Linked DNA regions of Homo sapiens: all the other regions are linked to region 1. Evidence: fine-mapped expression QTL. A gene starts in region 1. Each other region holds a variant in brackets. All regions are shown on one strand. Distances are between the middles of the regions. Region 1 holds the start of PSIP1 (PC4 and SRSF1 interacting protein 1). Region 2 overlaps CCDC171 (coiled-coil domain containing 171). Region 3 overlaps PSIP1 (PC4 and SRSF1 interacting protein 1). Region 4 overlaps PSIP1 (PC4 and SRSF1 interacting protein 1).

Evidence for each region. PIP is the estimated chance that this variant, and not a neighbour inherited with it, causes the effect. A credible set is the group of variants that fine-mapping cannot tell apart.
Region 2: its variant is the best candidate, but not a certain one, in a credible set for the expression of PSIP1 in whole blood (TOPMed, PIP 0.62).
Region 3: its variant is the best candidate, but not a certain one, in a credible set for the expression of PSIP1 in whole blood (TOPMed, PIP 0.54).
Region 4: its variant is the best candidate, but not a certain one, in a credible set for the expression of PSIP1 in whole blood (INTERVAL, PIP 0.53).

The regions. Positions count from the first base shown.
Region 1 is chr9:15,509,449-15,513,879 of GRCh38, forward strand. PSIP1 (PC4 and SRSF1 interacting protein 1) reads right to left here and starts at 1,522. Exons shown (of 16, transcript NM_033222.5): 1 at 1,369-1,522; 2 at 669-881. The coding sequence starts at 740. RefSeq lists enhancers at 635-1,588, 1,589-2,541, 3,194-3,812 and silencers at 648-847, 948-997, 1,128-1,187, 1,198-1,407, 1,428-1,507.
Region 2 is chr9:15,694,660-15,698,659 of GRCh38, forward strand. CCDC171 (coiled-coil domain containing 171) reads left to right here. Exons shown (of 26, transcript NM_173550.4): 11 at 576-678. Among named protein-coding and RNA genes, the nearest start is that of CCDC171, 140 kb to the left of the region's middle. The variant C/T (reference allele first, on the strand shown) is at 2,422.
Region 3 is chr9:15,487,854-15,491,853 of GRCh38, forward strand. It overlaps PSIP1 (PC4 and SRSF1 interacting protein 1), which reads right to left. Exons shown (of 16, transcript NM_033222.5): 4 at 2,133-2,271. Among named protein-coding and RNA genes, the nearest start is that of PSIP1, 21 kb to the right of the region's middle. The variant T/G (reference allele first, on the strand shown) is at 1,709.
Region 4 is chr9:15,480,863-15,484,862 of GRCh38, forward strand. All of the region lies in intron 6 of PSIP1 (PC4 and SRSF1 interacting protein 1), which reads right to left. Among named protein-coding and RNA genes, the nearest start is that of PSIP1, 28 kb to the right of the region's middle. The variant C/T (reference allele first, on the strand shown) is at 2,116.

The sequences.
Region 1 (4,431 bases):
TGAGGAATCTGGTCCACACCTCCTTTTTGCCTATTGGAAACAAAAAGGTAAAACAACTTCTTCAAGGTCATAAACATCTCAAATAAAAAAGGAGAAATGAATTTTCTGGCCCTTCCTCGGTACTAAACTACTGTAATACTTTCAAGAATATCCAGTCCTGAATCTGTATTAAACAAGCAAATCCAGAAGGCCTCATCAAGTACAAGGTATTTTTTTTAAAACCCTGTAAATCCAATTTAATCACATACGCACTTCTCTGACATCCAAGTGTTTGTGTGTAATCTGCACAAATTCCATTGATATTTTGTACTTGATCCAAAACTATGGAAATGTCAATGTTTCACTAATTTTTAAACAAAAATTCACTCTTCATTATTTCACCTACAATGGAATATTAACTAGCAACGCATTTAAATATTTCCTAGGAAGAAAATCTGTCCAAGTCTGCCAATAAACCATAGGGAAATACACAGGTATGTAGAAACGTCTGGATTTTCATAATTACACGGGAGATTATTGGGCAAAAAACTAAAATGAAAGGTCAGGTTACAAATGAGACTAAAGCGAGGGAGAGAAAGGACAGAAGAAAAAATAAAGAGACACGGTGGGCAGCAGGCCTCTGGAGAGGAGGGTAGCACTGCTAAGCGCGAGGGCTACAAATCACTTACTCGAGCTGGCCAATGGGGATAACCTTTCATCTTGGCGAAGATGAGGTCTCCAGGTTTGAAATCGCGAGTCATGTTTCGGGGGCGAGACCGGGGGTCCGAAGCCCGGGAGGCGGCGAGGAGATGCGGCGGCGCGGGGATGCGGGCGGCGGACGCGGGCCCAGCTACCGGGCCCGCGGGCGGGGGAGGATGCCTCGGGGCGTCCCGACGCGCCTGCTAGGGAGAGCACCGAGGGCGGTTAAAGCGAAGAACCCCGAAGGGAGGGGCCGCAAGGGGAGGGGGAGGGGAACCGGCGGGTGGGGGTGGGAGAGCGAGGGGACGGCCGCCTCCCGCTCCTCCCCCGCCAGTGCGCTGCCTCCGCGCTGGAGCAGGTCCTCCACCCCGCCACCGAAGAGACGCCACCACCTGAAGCAGGGATGCTGCCCGGCCAGAAATCGCCCGTCTGCCCGCCCCATCTTTCTCCGGGCTTTTTCCACCGAGCTTAAGCCCCAAAAGGGAGGGGGTGCATGGGAGAGAAAAAGGCAGGGATTCCGAGAAGCGAGCGGCCCCCTTCCGCCCACGCAAGGCCTCCCCCGCAACCTGCTGCCCAGCGGCTGCAGCCTCGGCCCCCTCGGCTCCCGGGCGGGCCGCGTCCACTTCCCCGCTACAGCCAGGAGCGACGCCACCGAGGGGGGGGCGGGGCGAGTCCCCGTCGCCCGCTCACCTGCCGGGGCCGCGGGCGCCGACGCTGCGGTTGCTGGCCGGTCGCCTCTACCCGCGTCCACGCAAGCCACCTGCGCCACCAGCTGCCGCAGAGGCGTCTCAACGGCTCGGAATCGCAACCGCGCCGCCGCTGCCGCCGCCGTAGCTGCGCTGCTCCCGCGCGGCTCCCGCTCGGCGCCCGCTAGCACTGGGGCGCGACCAACTGTTTACCGAGAGAGGGGGGATGTTGCAGCACCCGGCGAAGCTGTGTGGCTCCGAAGCGGATTTTCTGGAAACCCTACGTCCCCAAGTTCGCTTTCATGTAACAGGTGCATGCAGATGGAGAGGAAGACGCAAGCGAAGAAGAAAGGACTGGGCGAAAATAGCTCGGCCTGCCGCAAGTTCCCCCTGCGGTTTGCGGAGTGGTCGGGCCCGGCCCGCCCCTGCTGGCTTCTCTGCGTGTGTGTATTTGTATGTGTACTGTATGTAAAAGGCGGGGAGGGAGGAAATGATTGTTGTGGACGCGGTTTTGGGGGCGGGTATCCGGGCCTCTCTCCCTTGGCTGCGTGTTAGGGAGAAAGTGGCAGTAAAGATTCATGTTCTTGTATCGTTTCCAGGGTGGGGAGGTTTGAATGCTGCTTTTGCGCGGTTTGCATCATCCAAAAAAGAGGAGCTGTACGAAAACCCTAAGATGAAATTGGAGCATGCGGCGGTTGCAGGGTGTGCTGCATCTAGGCCTCTTGCACCTCGCTGAATGGGCCTCGTAGTCTCCTTTTCCTTGAAATTGTAGTATGAGAGAGCCCTATTTCATTTCTTTTGCATTTGCATCACCAAGAACTATTAAGAAAAATGCAACCCTACTGAATGCAAAATGCGAAGGGTAGAAAACAATGACAGGAAAACAGAAACCTTTTAGATAGGATGTGAGTTTGGGCCCTAACTAAATTTTAGCTGCATCTAAATTTTATTTCCCTAGTAGAATAGGAGCTGGTAGGTGGTACAATGTGTAAGTGTTACTAAACCTCAAATATTTTCTCTCTTAAAATGCTCTTCAAGGGATTTTAAAGGTTAATTTTTTGATCCTTTAGAGAGGCTGAAAATATTTTTAAAAAGAATGTTAAGACATATAAAAATAAGAATAATAAGACATATATTAGCACCTAGATAATACTGTTTTAAATACGGGACTCAACTGGAAATGAATTAGGAAATTTTTTTTGAATTGGTAAAAATTGAGAATTTTTTGAAAGCGATACAGCATGTCTTTAAAAAGGAATGAAAGAAGACAGTCCCAAAGTAAAATGTCCTGTAAGGAGTTTCGAGAAACTAAGTATACCTGGGCAATATGCAGAGAGTTCCAAGTGGAGCAAAAAGAGAAATTGGCAGAGGAGAAGGAAGGGTTGGTGAAATGTCTTGAAGCTTCTCATTCTGAATATGAATTTAATGTGTGTAGTAGGAAGCTACTATAGGTTGCTCAGCAAGAAGGGGGTAAAAATGATTATTTAACCAGTTCTTGATGTTTCAAGGTAGATGTTAGTAGAAAGAGGCTGGGGGTAACTGGAGTACTCATGAAATGACGCATTTCTCAGTGAGAATGGTGACTAAGAAAAGGGAAGGAAGAGCACAACTAAGTAATTACACAAAGGAATGATTGTCAGGTGTTGGCTATAAATTATGCATAGGAAAAGGTGGAAAAAGATGTATTGAAGAAAAGCTCAAGATACAGAGTAAGAGAGACCAAAGCAGCATCCAGCAATCATTTTTTTGTGTGTATGCACTTTATTTGTTCTAAACCCTGTAAGGCCTTGCTACTTCAAGTGTGGTCCAAGGCCCAGCAGCAAGGGCTTTACCTGGGAGCTCAGGTAAAGCTCAGACCTTCCCCAGGCCTTCTAAATCATAATCTGCGTTTTAACAGGATCCCTAGGTGATTCTTACGCATATTCAAGTTTGAGAAACTGCTTTAGAGGATACCTCAGACTGTAAAAACTTCAAACTAAGAAAAACAGATATATAACAAGTTATAATTAACGTTAAAGATAACTTTTTATTAGTACTAATGGTAGGATTAACAGGTAAAGAGGGGGTAGTTAGTGTTAGAGGGGACCTCAGAAAAGAAATAAAAAAGGGAAAATGGAAAAGCATTGATGTTTTACTATTAGTATTTTCTGTTGTTTTTGTTGTTTTAAAAAAAGGAAGTACCATACTTAGCTCCTGCTGCCTTTAAGTTTTGTCCGCTTCAACCTGTGGTAGTTTGTGAACAACAGGAGATACCCTTTAAACAATAAAGGCAAAACAGGTGGTGGTTTAAGCTTCCAGAGAACAAAAGCCCAGGATCCCTGGGAGCAACAGTTCTGAATCTGCGAGGAAAGGGGGGGGGAGGGGAGGGGAGGGGAGGGCAGGGAACGGGGAAGGAAAGCTGGGCACATCCTAGCCACTTGGGAGAGCTTTTCTGTGCTCTTTTCCAGCTATGCTTGGTGCAGCCCTCTCCCATAGTCAGCCTTCTTAGTGGGGATACTTGAAAAAGTATACCAAAATGGAGATCAGAGGAGCAATGGGAAAGTTATAAGGAGAAAGAGTGTAATTTCCAAAACAACTGAAGCAAGGGGAGGGGGCAGGAAAATCCAAATGAGTTGAGGCAGGAACTTGGCCTACATTATCTCATTTAACCCAAGTGCCACTATCCCCATTTCACAGATGAGAAAATAAGCTCACAGAAGGTAAGCAGCTAGCTTGCCCAAGATCACACATCTAGTCCAGGGGCTGAGGCAACATTCTAGCCCCTCTGGCTACTTGCCCATGCCATTTTTGTGATCCCACATCGCCTCTAGGTGGGGCAGGGAGGCAGCAAGGCTGAAGGAGGAGTGGCTTATAATTAGAAAAGATGCTGGAAGGAAAAGCAGCCCAGTACTTACTCTTCCACCTTCCACCTTTGGGCTTGAAAGTATTCCCAGCTTCAAATTTCCTAACAACCTCCCTCCACACCATGCCATTCCCCAGCTTGTCCCCAGCACGAGACCATTCTGTTTAACTCCTTCTGGTCCTAAAAAACTCAACCCAAAAATCACCTCTGGAAAAGATGTGACCT
Region 2 (4,000 bases), 180 kb after region 1:
CCAGTCCAATCAGTGTGGTCTAACCCAATGCAGTTTTACTAAAGTCTGGCCATTCTACCATCTTAGTCTCTGTCCAGTGCTTCCATTCCCTACCCCTTCTTCCCCTTTCACTGTCAATACCCTAGACCAAAGTACTGTCACTTGACTGCTGCAGTAACTTCAAATTGGTCTTAACTGTCTTCACTTTTGACTGCCATCTGGCAACTTGCCATATGACTGTAGTCATGATTTTTTAAGTGTTCCATAATTCCTCTGTCTCAGTTTTCTTGTCTCTAAAATTGGGATAATAATAGCCTTTCCATCATAGGGTTATTGTGAGGATAAAATGAATTACTATATATAAAACACTTAGAATAGTGCCAGGCACTAACTCCTCAGTAAATTGTTAATAAGACCTTGTACAGTGTTACATTAAGCCAAGTAAAAGGTATGATTAAGAGAGAAAGATGGTTTATTAATAATATATTTGAATGGAATCATTATCTTGTTTATACTTGTGTTATATATGTTCACACTAAAAATATGCAGCTCTTATAATACGTGACCTTATGTGTAATTTTTTTCTTAATTAAAAGGCTAAGAAGCACCAGGCCTTCCTAGTAGAGACATGTGAAAATAACGTGAAAGAATTGGAATCGATCTTGGACAGCTTTACTGTGTCGGGCCAGTGGACATCAGGTTAGTTGAAGGTATAAAATGACAGATGCATCTGTCAATGTTCCAAAGTCACTACATTTTGGGAATTCTGCAGATGCCTCTTGTAGTCCCTCATCTCAACATGTTTTGATTTGATGACATGATAAGAGCAGTTCTCACAGCAGTCAGTTGGCCTAGCTGGCTGAGAAAGGGTGACGGAATATGGACCTGCTGTTGTCCTCCCAGAACTTGATTTACAAGTGTTGGGGTGTGTGTGATTGGACAGACAAGGGCTCACTTGCTGTGTTCTGAATCCAACTGAGAAAAAAGTCCTTACAGTATACCTGCAAGGGGAACAGATGTTTCGATCAAACTGAGCCAAATTCTGAGGCAACCTTCAGCAACTTAAAGGTCATGCATTTAAAAGGTTATGTAGGACACAGGCTGTAGCATAGCGCATGTTCTATACTTTCCAAGCCGGTTTTCTAAGCTGGTTTTCATTTCCTACTACCATATACATATACTGTCCAGATAAGAATGCTTAGGTAGAATATTTTAGTTGTAGTTATTAGCCCACTTCATATGATAAAGAGCTATAAAATTATATATTAATTAGGTAGACATATTTTGAGAACTAGCAAAAGCAATGGCTGGCTAATGAATTCTGTTCACTATTTCTACTTTCTTAGTGTTTTGTGTTTATGTTATTATGTGTGCTATAGTAGCTTTGACATAAATACTTTTCTACCTCAGTTTTCTTTTGCCCTGCTTTCAGCCCTGAATTATTTGGTGGTCTTCTAACACAATTCTATTCTTCAAAAGGCACATAAAATTAAATTTCTCACTCTTAAAAATTGAGAAATTTAAGAAAACATTTTTAAAAGGAATCTAACAGCAATTTGGCAAATAAGTTCTTTAGAGAGCTCTTAAGTTCAGGAAGTTTTTGTCCTTGAAAACTTGGAAGGACCTCATCAAGGTTCATATTTTGCCTTGTGGATCTGTAGATTTCTCAGTTGGTAAGCTATTAGAAATGTAGTGTGCTTTGCTATTGTCTATGTTTTAAGTCTCTGTGTTTTTAGCTTTTATGAAATTAATGTGTAACTATCTTTGTTTTTATGTAAACTTTTCCCAAAAGCATTACTGTATCATAATCATAATTTGTTATCATGGACAAATCAAAAGATATAAAAGTGTCATAAAAGTAGGTGCAGGTATCCAGTTTCAATTATATTTGTTACAGCTTTGGAGGAGAAAATTTTCCTTTGCACTGGTACTTTTTTATTATTGAGATGTATCAGTGGTGTTTAATGGTGTTAGGATCTTTAAAAATTGTTAAATATTGTCGCAGTATAGCATATGCCTCAATATTATTTTAAATATTTCTTCAGAGTTGAATTAGAAAAGCTAAGAATAATGTGGTCATGTCTCGTTTGAGTTTTAAAGTAAAATAGTTGGTAACAAAGCAACTCAGAAGTTATTACTAAGCCTACAGAATTTTCTATTAAAATTTTAATTTTTATTCTTTTATTAACCATCCTTTTTTATCTTTATCTTCCTAATTTTCTGTATAGATGCATACTTTGTGTATTCCAGGGAATGTGTTCCTGCGAAAGGACTGTGCACTGAATTAGTGATTTTTGGATTGTTACAGAGTGGTAACATGTTTCCATTTTGTGCTGATTTTTCTCTCCTTTACACCCTTCTCCCCTTGCTGATCCATTCTCCTCTGTTCTGTTTTGCTGTGTGCCTTGGGAGGCTGCCTTCTGTGGATCTGGGCTCCTTTAC[C/T]TTCTGGCTTCTGGTTAGGTTTGGACAGTAGGTGCACCCACAGGAGATTAAGGGAATGACAGAATAAAGCAGTCGAAGTGTTTATTTCCTCTGCTTCCTCTGCTCCACTGCATTTTTGGCAGTGGCTTCATTTTTCAGCAGCCACAGTGCCTGTTGGGTGGGCCCTCTTTCATGGCTGTGGCTCTTGTTAGACTATGGTGACATTCTCTCCACTTGACCTTTTAAGCTAAGACATAATATTAGTTTTCTACTCTTGCTTGCTTTTGGTGCCTCATCATACCTTTTGGGATCTGTTAACCTGTACACATTTCTGTAGTCTCGTCATTAAACTATCTTGCTGATGACCTCTTCTGAGTATTTAATTTACATCCTGATTGATTTACATAACTCCTTGGGATCTGGTTTCATTCCTCCTATTGGCTTGCATAAAACAGCTCTGTGCCTTTATAATGGACTCTGTTTCTGCTCAGATTGGGTTTTTGTTACATAAGCAAAAAAGTGAGTCACGAGTTTTTCGGCTTCCCAGTATGTTTGAATGTTATGTTTATACTATAGTGTAGTCCATTAAGTTGTGAGAGCATTATGTCAAAAAATCCACATACCTTAATTAAAAAATACATTATTGCCAAAAAATGCTGATGATCATCTGAGCCTTCAGTGAGTCATAACCTTTTTGCTGGTGGAGAGTCTTGCCTTGATGTTGATGGCTGCTGACTCATCAGGGTGGTGGTGGCTGAAGGTTGGGTTAGCTGTGGCAATTTCTTTTTTGTTACCTAAAAAATGGATACAGAATAATTTTACATACTTTCATACACATTTATGGGGTGCATGTGATATTTTGATACATGCATGAAATATGTGTAATCATCAAATCAGGGTATTTAAGATACCAGTCACCTTGAACATTTAGCATTTCTTTCTATTGGGAACATTTCAAATCTTCTGGCTATTTTGAAATATAAAACGTATTGTTGTTAACTGTAGAGTTCAATACTGTGCTATTGAACTCTAGAACTTATTTCTTCTAACTATATGTTTATACCCATTAATCTACCTCTCTTCAATACCATCCTCCACACTGCCACTAGTAACCACCATTCTACTCTCTACCTCTGTGAGATCTGCTTTTTTAGCTCTCATGTGTGAGTAAGAACATAAGGGCCAGGCGCGGTGGCTCACGCCTGTAATCCCAGCACTTTGGGAGGCCGAGGGGGGTGGATCACGAGGTCAGGAGATTGAGACCATCCTGGCTAACACGGTGAAACACCGTCTCTACTAAAAATACAAAAAATTAGCCAGGCGTGGTGGCGGGTGCCTGTAGTCCCAGCTACTCGGGAGGCTGAGGCAGGAGAATGGCATGAACCTGGGAGGCGGAGCTTGCAGTGAGCTGAGATCGTGCCACTGCACTCCAGCCTGGGCAACAGAGCAAGACCCCGTCTCAAAAAAAAAAAAAAAAAAAGGAACATAGGATATTTGTCTTTCAGTGCCTGGCTTATTTAACTTAACATAATGACCTCCAGTTTTATTTACGTTGCTACAAATGACAGGGTTTCATTCTTTTTTATGGCTGGATAGTATT
Region 3 (4,000 bases), 22 kb before region 1:
ATTATGATATGGTTCGATGAATCCATTAACAAGTAAGTACTGGGAAGTAATAAAGTCACTAATCATTTAATGTGGCCTTGGAGCAGCAATGAAAGATTTATATGTTCCAGATAGAACAGTATCTAAAAAGTTCTCCAAGGTAAAGCATGGCACATGTGAAGAAATAAAATTTATCGGTTTAAAAGTAAAAAGCTAGGCCGGGCACAGTGACTTATGCCTGTAATCCCAGCACTTTGGGAGGCTGAGGTGGGTGGATCACGAGGTCAGGAGTTCAAGACTGGCCTGGCCAAGATGGTGAAACCCCATCTCTACTAAAAATACAAAAATTACCCAGGCACGGTGGCAAAGCGCACACGTAATCCCAGCTACTCAGGAGGCTGAGGCAGGAGAATTGCTTGACCTGGGGGGCAGAGGCTTCAGTGAGCCGAGATCACGCCACTGCACTCCAGCCGGGGTGACAGAGTGAGACTCCATCTCAACAACAACAACAAAAAAAAGAGTAAAAAGCTGCAGAATTTCCACTTTGTTGCTACCTCGCTTCTTTAGATTTACTCGTGCTCTTCCTAGTTTTTGGACCTCAGGTCTTAAACAGAGGACGTTTATTGATGAAAGAGAAACTGTCCCAATTATCTTCATAAAGACCTCTCATAGCCCTCTGATCCTATTATAAAGCCATCTGTTTATTTTAAATCGTAAGAGTTCTGGAACATTCATTTGGGAATATATGCAACAATTCAAGAGTGCAATCGACAATATAAAAAATTTTTCTAAGCCTATAATCCCAGCACTTTGGGAAGCCGAGGTGGGCAGATCACAAGGTCAGAAGATTGAGACCATCCTGGCTAACAAGGTGAAACCCCGTCTCTACTAAAAATACAAAAAATTAGGCTGGACACAGTGGCTCAGGCCTGTAATCCCAACACTCTGGGGGGCCGAGGCGGGCGGATCACAAGGTCAGGAGATCGAGACCATCCTGGCTAACACGGTGAAACCCCGTCTCTACTAAAAATACAAAAAATTAGCCGGGTGTGGTGGCGGGCACCTGTAGTCCCAGCTACTCGGAAGGCTGAGGCAGGAGAATGGTGTGAACCCGGGAGGCGGAGCTTACAGTGAGCCAAGATAGAGCCAATGCACCCCAGCCTGGGCGACAGAGCGAGACTCCTCTCAAAAAAAATAAATTTTTTCTAAATCACATCAATACCAACACAAAGGAGAAGTAAGAGAACCAGTGTTTTCTGTAGGATAAAAACAATACAAATTGGATAAAGGCAAACCACTCCATGAAAATTTACTATAACATATAAATTAATAAAAGCTCTGGACCCATGGGAAAAACCACAGAAAAGAAGGTATAAGGTGGCTGCTGACACCAATAAATATAATTTGCATAGTGCTGTAAGTACATTTGTCACATACCAATTTAACTCATGAGGTTCATATTCCAATACAATTCTATGGATTTAGAAATTAAAGGCTGCGCGCAATGGCTCTCATCTGTAATCCCAGCATTTTGGGAGGCTGAGGTGGGTGGATCACCTGAAGTCAGGAGTTTGAGATCAGTCTGGCCAACATGACAAAACCCTGTCTCTAGTAAAAATACAAAAAGTTAGCCAGGCGTGGTGGCGGGCACCTGTAACCCAGCTACTTGGGAGGCTGAGGCAGGACAATCACTTGAACCCGGGAGGCATAAGTTGCAGTGAGCCAAGAT[T/G]GCACCATTGCACTCCAGCCTGGGCAACAAGAGCGAAACTACACCTCAAAAAAAAAAAAAAAAAAAAGAAATTTAATTAATTAATTAAAGAGAATAAGAAAACTTAGGCATACACCATGTAAGTCGCAAAACCTAAATTTAGAACAGTACATACAGCTTTATATTCAATGACGTATTAAACCCTCTATCAGGAGTTAAATAACTGAATAGTTCCCAGTTTCTTGAGATCTGTTTAACTACATAAAATAATGATTTTGTCAATTCATTTTGATATAAAATGCCCAAGGTTCAACCTCACAAATAAGAACACAACAAACTAGTATGAAATTCCCAAGGCTTTTAGTATTTACTTTCCTACAGCTAGGATAGTGATTATTCCCCAGGATTAAATAAGTAATATCAAATTTTATGTAATATGACTTACCTGTTGACTTGAAAATTTCACTTTTGGATTGTTATCTATCTCCCATAAACCTTCATTAAAACCTTTTCTTTTATTTGGTTTGCCATACTTTTCCTTATTTTCTGAGTAAGGAAATATATCCTTTGGTCCTAAAAAAGCACTAAAAAAGAAGTGGGGAAGATGTGAGTGCAAAGCAAGCTCAAATACATAATTTATTAGATAAGACACCCTATTACACAATTATCAAAAATACAGAACCTAAACTGCATTACAAATCTTAAATAAGTTAAAGGGCAATTAATAATTCCAAATACTTTTATTAAATTCAGTAACAAGCTACTATTTAAATCCATAATCCTATTAAGTAAAACCACAGACGTTGCACAATGTGAATGTACTTAACACTGCTGAACTATACACTTAAAAATGGTTACATCGCCATGCGTGGTGCCTTACGCCTGTAATCTCACCACTTTGGGAAGCTGAGGCGGGTGGATCACTTGAGGTCAGGAGTTTGAGACCAGCCTGGCCAACATGGTGAAACCCCATCTCTACTAAAAATACAAAAATTAGCCGGGCGTGGTGGCGTGCACCTGTAGTCCCAGCTACTTGAGAGGATGAGGCAGGAGAATCGCTTGAACCCGGGAGGCGGAGGTTGCAGTGAGCTGTGATCACGCCACTGCACTCCAGCCTGGGTGACAGAGTGAGACTCTGTCTCAAAAAAAAAAAAAAAAAAAAAAAGGTTAATTCAATAAATTTGGGTTTTTTTAAACTACAAACTTTGACACATTAGCATTAATCAACACATTTAACTGCACCCCAAATATAGTTTCACTTCAAAATAACTTCGTATATTATACAACTCACAAAACTATCGTGTTTTTAAAATAATCAGTGAGTATGTTAAGAATTTTATTTTACTGAATGAGGGAATCAGACATATTATAACCCATTCATTCATATATGTACTATCAATTTTTGCTATCTGTGGTAGTAATGTTCTATAAAGTCACTGTGAAAACTGAATTAGCAAATACACAACCATTGCTCCTAGGGGAAATACAGGGTTAGGTTCCTGTAATCACAAGGTTTTCATGAACCAATCAATACATAAATTCATTTTATGTGTGTTTCTGTTTAAAGACACCTTATTTAATACAGACTGCTAACTCATTAACACTGAACTCATAGCCAACAGCGTATGTAACATGCGCTTTCTCTGTAAAGCACATTATAACCTTCTCGCACTTAGCAACATGAAAGAACACTTTAGCATTATGCTTGGGAGCTAGTTTAAATAGCAAAATGACCAACAAAAGCAAAAAAATGCATGGCAATAAACAGACTGCAAAAAAGATACTTGCTTACAGTATGAGTGCTGAAAAAAGAAGGCAAGCATTCCCTTGTACAACCTCAGCTAAGAATGTGTTGTATCAGGAGACTCAAGTCTTTCCACTACTCAGTGCATGTTTGTGAATGACCTGTACAACAAGTACTACTGATCTGGGCTTACAAATAATTTTGGTGAGTAGGTACATTCGCAAATATGGAATCCACAAATAACGAGCCTCAACTGTTTGCATATGTGTGTACATATATACACAGATAGTTCTTAATTTACTAGGAGGTTATGTCCCAATAAGTCCACTGTAAATCTAAAATATCTGAAGTCAGAAATCCATTTAAGTAACCATGAAAAACCCACTCTAAAGTCAAAAAATCTAAGTTGAACCACTATAGGTGTGTTAGTCCATTCTCACGCTGCTATGAAGAAATACCAGAGACTGGGTAATTTATAAAGAAAAGAAGTTTAATTGACTCACAGTTCCACACGGCTGGGGAGGCCCCAAGAAACTTACAATCATGGCAGAAGGCACCTCTTCACAGGG
Region 4 (4,000 bases), 29 kb before region 1:
TGAACTGAAATTCATGCCACTGCATTCCAGCCTGGGCGACAGAGCAAGACTGTCTCAAAAAAACAAAACAAAACAAAAAACCTTTATATGGCAATTCCACTTCTACGAATGTATCCATTTCTTTATTAGTTTTTTAAACATTTCTTTAAATAACTGAAACATAATGAAGCATATTAAAAGTATTATTAAAACTCATCTAAGGTAACCCTTGAGTTGTTCTCAGAGAACACTGAAAATTCCTCCCTGAACATTATTAGCTCAGGTTTTATTTCTAGAATTTTAAGAACTTACAAAGTTGCCCTGCCCCAATCCTGATTCAATAGCTCTGAGTCAGGGAACCAGGATTCTGTGTTTTTATAAAGCTCCCCAGGTAACAAAGCTTAAGAACTCAAGACTGAGAGCTCTTTTCCTACTGAGGAGTTAAGAGGGCATAATTTGTCTAAAATTCAGTTATAACTGGTCAATTCTTTGGTGCAAAGAAGACTCTCTCCACTTACACTTTCTGCTTTTGGAAATAAATCAAAACACTGAATAAGAATTATAGGTAGGGTTGGGTGCAGTGGCCCATGCCTGTAATTCCCACTCAGCGCTTTGGGAGGCTGGGGCTAGCAGATCACGAGGTCAGGAGTTCGAGACCAGCCTGGCCAACATGGTGAAACCCCATCTCTATTAAAAATACAAAAATAAGTCAGGCACCTGTAATCCCAGCCACTCAAGAGGCTAAGGCAGGAGAATCACTTGAACCCAGGAGGCAGAGATTGCAGTGAGCTGACATCCTGCTACCACACTCCAGCCTGGGCAACAGAGCAAGACTCCGTCTCAAAAAAAACAAAGAATTATAGGTAAAAGAGATGGTTTTTAAGGAGGTACCAATAAGTGTAACAAGTTCATCAATAATAATTAAAACTATATTAACACTAATACTAAGAGATCAGCCCTACCATGCACGTGTGTTCATGACTATTATGGCAAAATCATGCAAGTCAGAACCATTCCTCATGAAAATAAAATCAAAGAATAATAAATATTTTATCTAAAGAAAGGACCAATGAAGTTATACGAAACATATATATTTAAAACTTTTCCACTCTTAGGATATGCTTAAATATTTAAACATCTTAAATGCTAATATCTTAAACTACTGACTACAGATTTATTTCTTCCATATTTTACTTGCTCTGAGACATCTAACCCTCATTTTCTCTTCATTTTTTACCCCTTTCTAGCTCTACCAGCTTCCTTGATCTTAACTAAAAACACACCACTTCACACACACACAAAAACCTCATGGGATTACTATTCAAATGTATTCATAAGTCCTCCACATCCTTGTTTTGCTGTATCTGTCCCACAAATCCTCAAGAGAGGTTACTATACAATTCTACCTTCTCTGTTCTATTATTCCCAGCTGCTGAAGCCTGCTGGGAAAAAAAAAATGTACAAACATGCATTCATTTTATGCAATCTCAGTTGAGATCTCAAAGTCACTTTACCCTATCTGATCAGGCCTCCTCCTCCCACCAACAGCTGCATAATTTACTCAATCTATTCTTCCCGACTTGTACCACATCCAAAGTCTTGCTTTGATGTGGATGGGGCAGAAGGGAGTAAGGGCTGTAGAAAGGAATTCCCTTAATTTCCTAGTGTCCCAAGAAATTTTCAGAGCCTCCTCCATCCCTCCCCTTCAGTGTTAAGAGACTGAAACATCCATCTCCTCCTTGTTAAGTCAGTTCCTTCAAATGTCCCCTCCATTCTCTCATCCAACATGTATTTACATAAAATAATTTATACTGACTCCACATCTTTGATCTTTCCTAATTTTGCAGAGAAAAAGTGTTAAGGCATTTACTGTCTTTTGTCATTTTAACACTTTCCCTTAGCTATGAAAATCCCTATTATGTTGCCACATTCTCCTTGCCTTCAAAGATTTAAAAAGCACAGTGTAACTTTACCATTAACATTTATTCTCTAACCCCTTAATCTAGTTTCTGTCCTTACCATTCAACTAAATGGAGTTCACCTGAAAGTATCCTAGAGCAGCCTATGTGGCAAGTATCTTACTGGTACCCTCTCTAAATCAGGACATTACTGACCACTTCTTCATTCTGGACATTC[C/T]CCCTTCCCTTGTTTAGCTTGATACCCTCTTAGATTTTCTCTTGACAGTTCATTCTCAGCCATAATTTCACAGAGCAACCTTTCCCCCTCTCCATTATATTCCTTCAGGATTCTGGTTTCTGCATCCTCTCAATAAACCGTTCTCCTTTGACCTCATCTATTACCCTATCTTCATGCCAGAGACTGCATCTGTAACTTACATCTTCTCCCTCTTTGGTGCCAGAACAATATATATATCTCTTCACTCCAGTTCCCACAGGTGCTTCACCTTCCCCTTACTCATGCCTATGATTCCAAACCAACATCCTCTGCACTCCCAATAACTAGCTTATTCAAGTAAAGACCTTAGAGCCACCTTAGATTCTAGTTCCCTCCCCCGCCCCCTTTACCATCCACTTCTCATCAACCATCAACTTAACCTCTTAAAGTGCTCTTAAATCCCATCTCTCGTCTACACCACTTAAAAAATCTATAAGATCCTTGTCCTTCCAGTCTCATGCCAACTCCTTAGAAAGGCCTTTTGTAGCCTAGTCTGTTGCCAACTCATTAACTCCCCATTTAAACCCTCTTATTTTAAATATTTATTTTTTGTCTAAAAAAAAATGTAAGTTCAATGGAAACAAAGACCTTGTCTTCTTTACTGACTACTCAAATCCATGCCAAGTCCAGTAAAGTTAGTACTAAAATTCTGAATGAATTTTACAGTGAACTGGTCTCACTGCCCCAATCCAATCCCCATCGTTCACACTGCTTTAAAAAAATGACGCATTCTTTGGGAGGCTAAGGAAGGCGGATCACAAGGTGAGGAGTTCAAGACCTGGCTGACCAACATAGTGAAACCCTGTCTTTACTAAATATACAAAAAATTAGCTGGGTATGGTGGCGGATGCCTGTAATCCCAGCACTTTGGGAGGCAGAGGTGAGCAGATCACTTGAGGCCAGGAGTTTGAGACCAGCCTGGCCACCATGGTGAAACCCCATCTCTACTAAAAATACAAAAATTAGCCAGGCGTGGTGGTGCACGTCTGTAATCCCAGCTACTCAGGAGGCTGAGTGAGGCAGGAGAATCGCTTGAACCCGGGAGGTGGAGGTTGCAGTGAGCTAAGATCATGCCACTGCACTCCAGTCTGGGTGACAGAATGAAACTCTGTATCCAAAAAAAAAAAAAAACAAATTTATATTTAAAAAAAAAAAGAAAAAAGAGGCATCAAGTTGTGTACAGAGGCTCACATCTGCAATCCTAGTGCTTTGGGAGGATCACCGAGGCTGGGAGTTAGAGATCAGCCTAGGCAACATAGCAAAACCCCATGTCTATCAAAAAAAAAAATATATATATATAGGCCAGGCCCGGTGGCTCACACCTGTAATCCCAGAGCTTCAGGAGGCTGAGATGGGCAGATCACCTGAGGTCAGGAGTTCGAGATAAGCCTGGCCAACATGGTGAGACCCCATCTCTACTAAAAATACAAAAATTAGCTGGGCGTGGTGGCTCACACCAGCACTTTGGGAGGCCGAGGTGGGTGGATCACTTGAGGCCAGGAGTTCAAGACCAGCCTGGCCAACATGGTAAAACCTCATCTCTCCTAAAAATACAAAAAAATTAGGTGTGCATGGTGGTGTGCACCCGTAATCCCAGCTAATCGGGGGGCTGAGGCAGGAGAATCACGTGAACCTGGGAGGTGAAGGTTGCAGTGAGCCGAGATGGCGCCACTGCACTTCAGCTGGGGCAACAGTGTGAGAATCCGTCTCAAAACAAAAACAAAAACAAAACAAAAAAATACAAAAATTAGCTGGGCATGGTGGTGCATGCCTGTAATCCCAGCTACTTGGGAGGCCGAGGCAAGAGAATTGTTTGAATTCGGGAGGTGGAGGTTGCAGTGAGCCA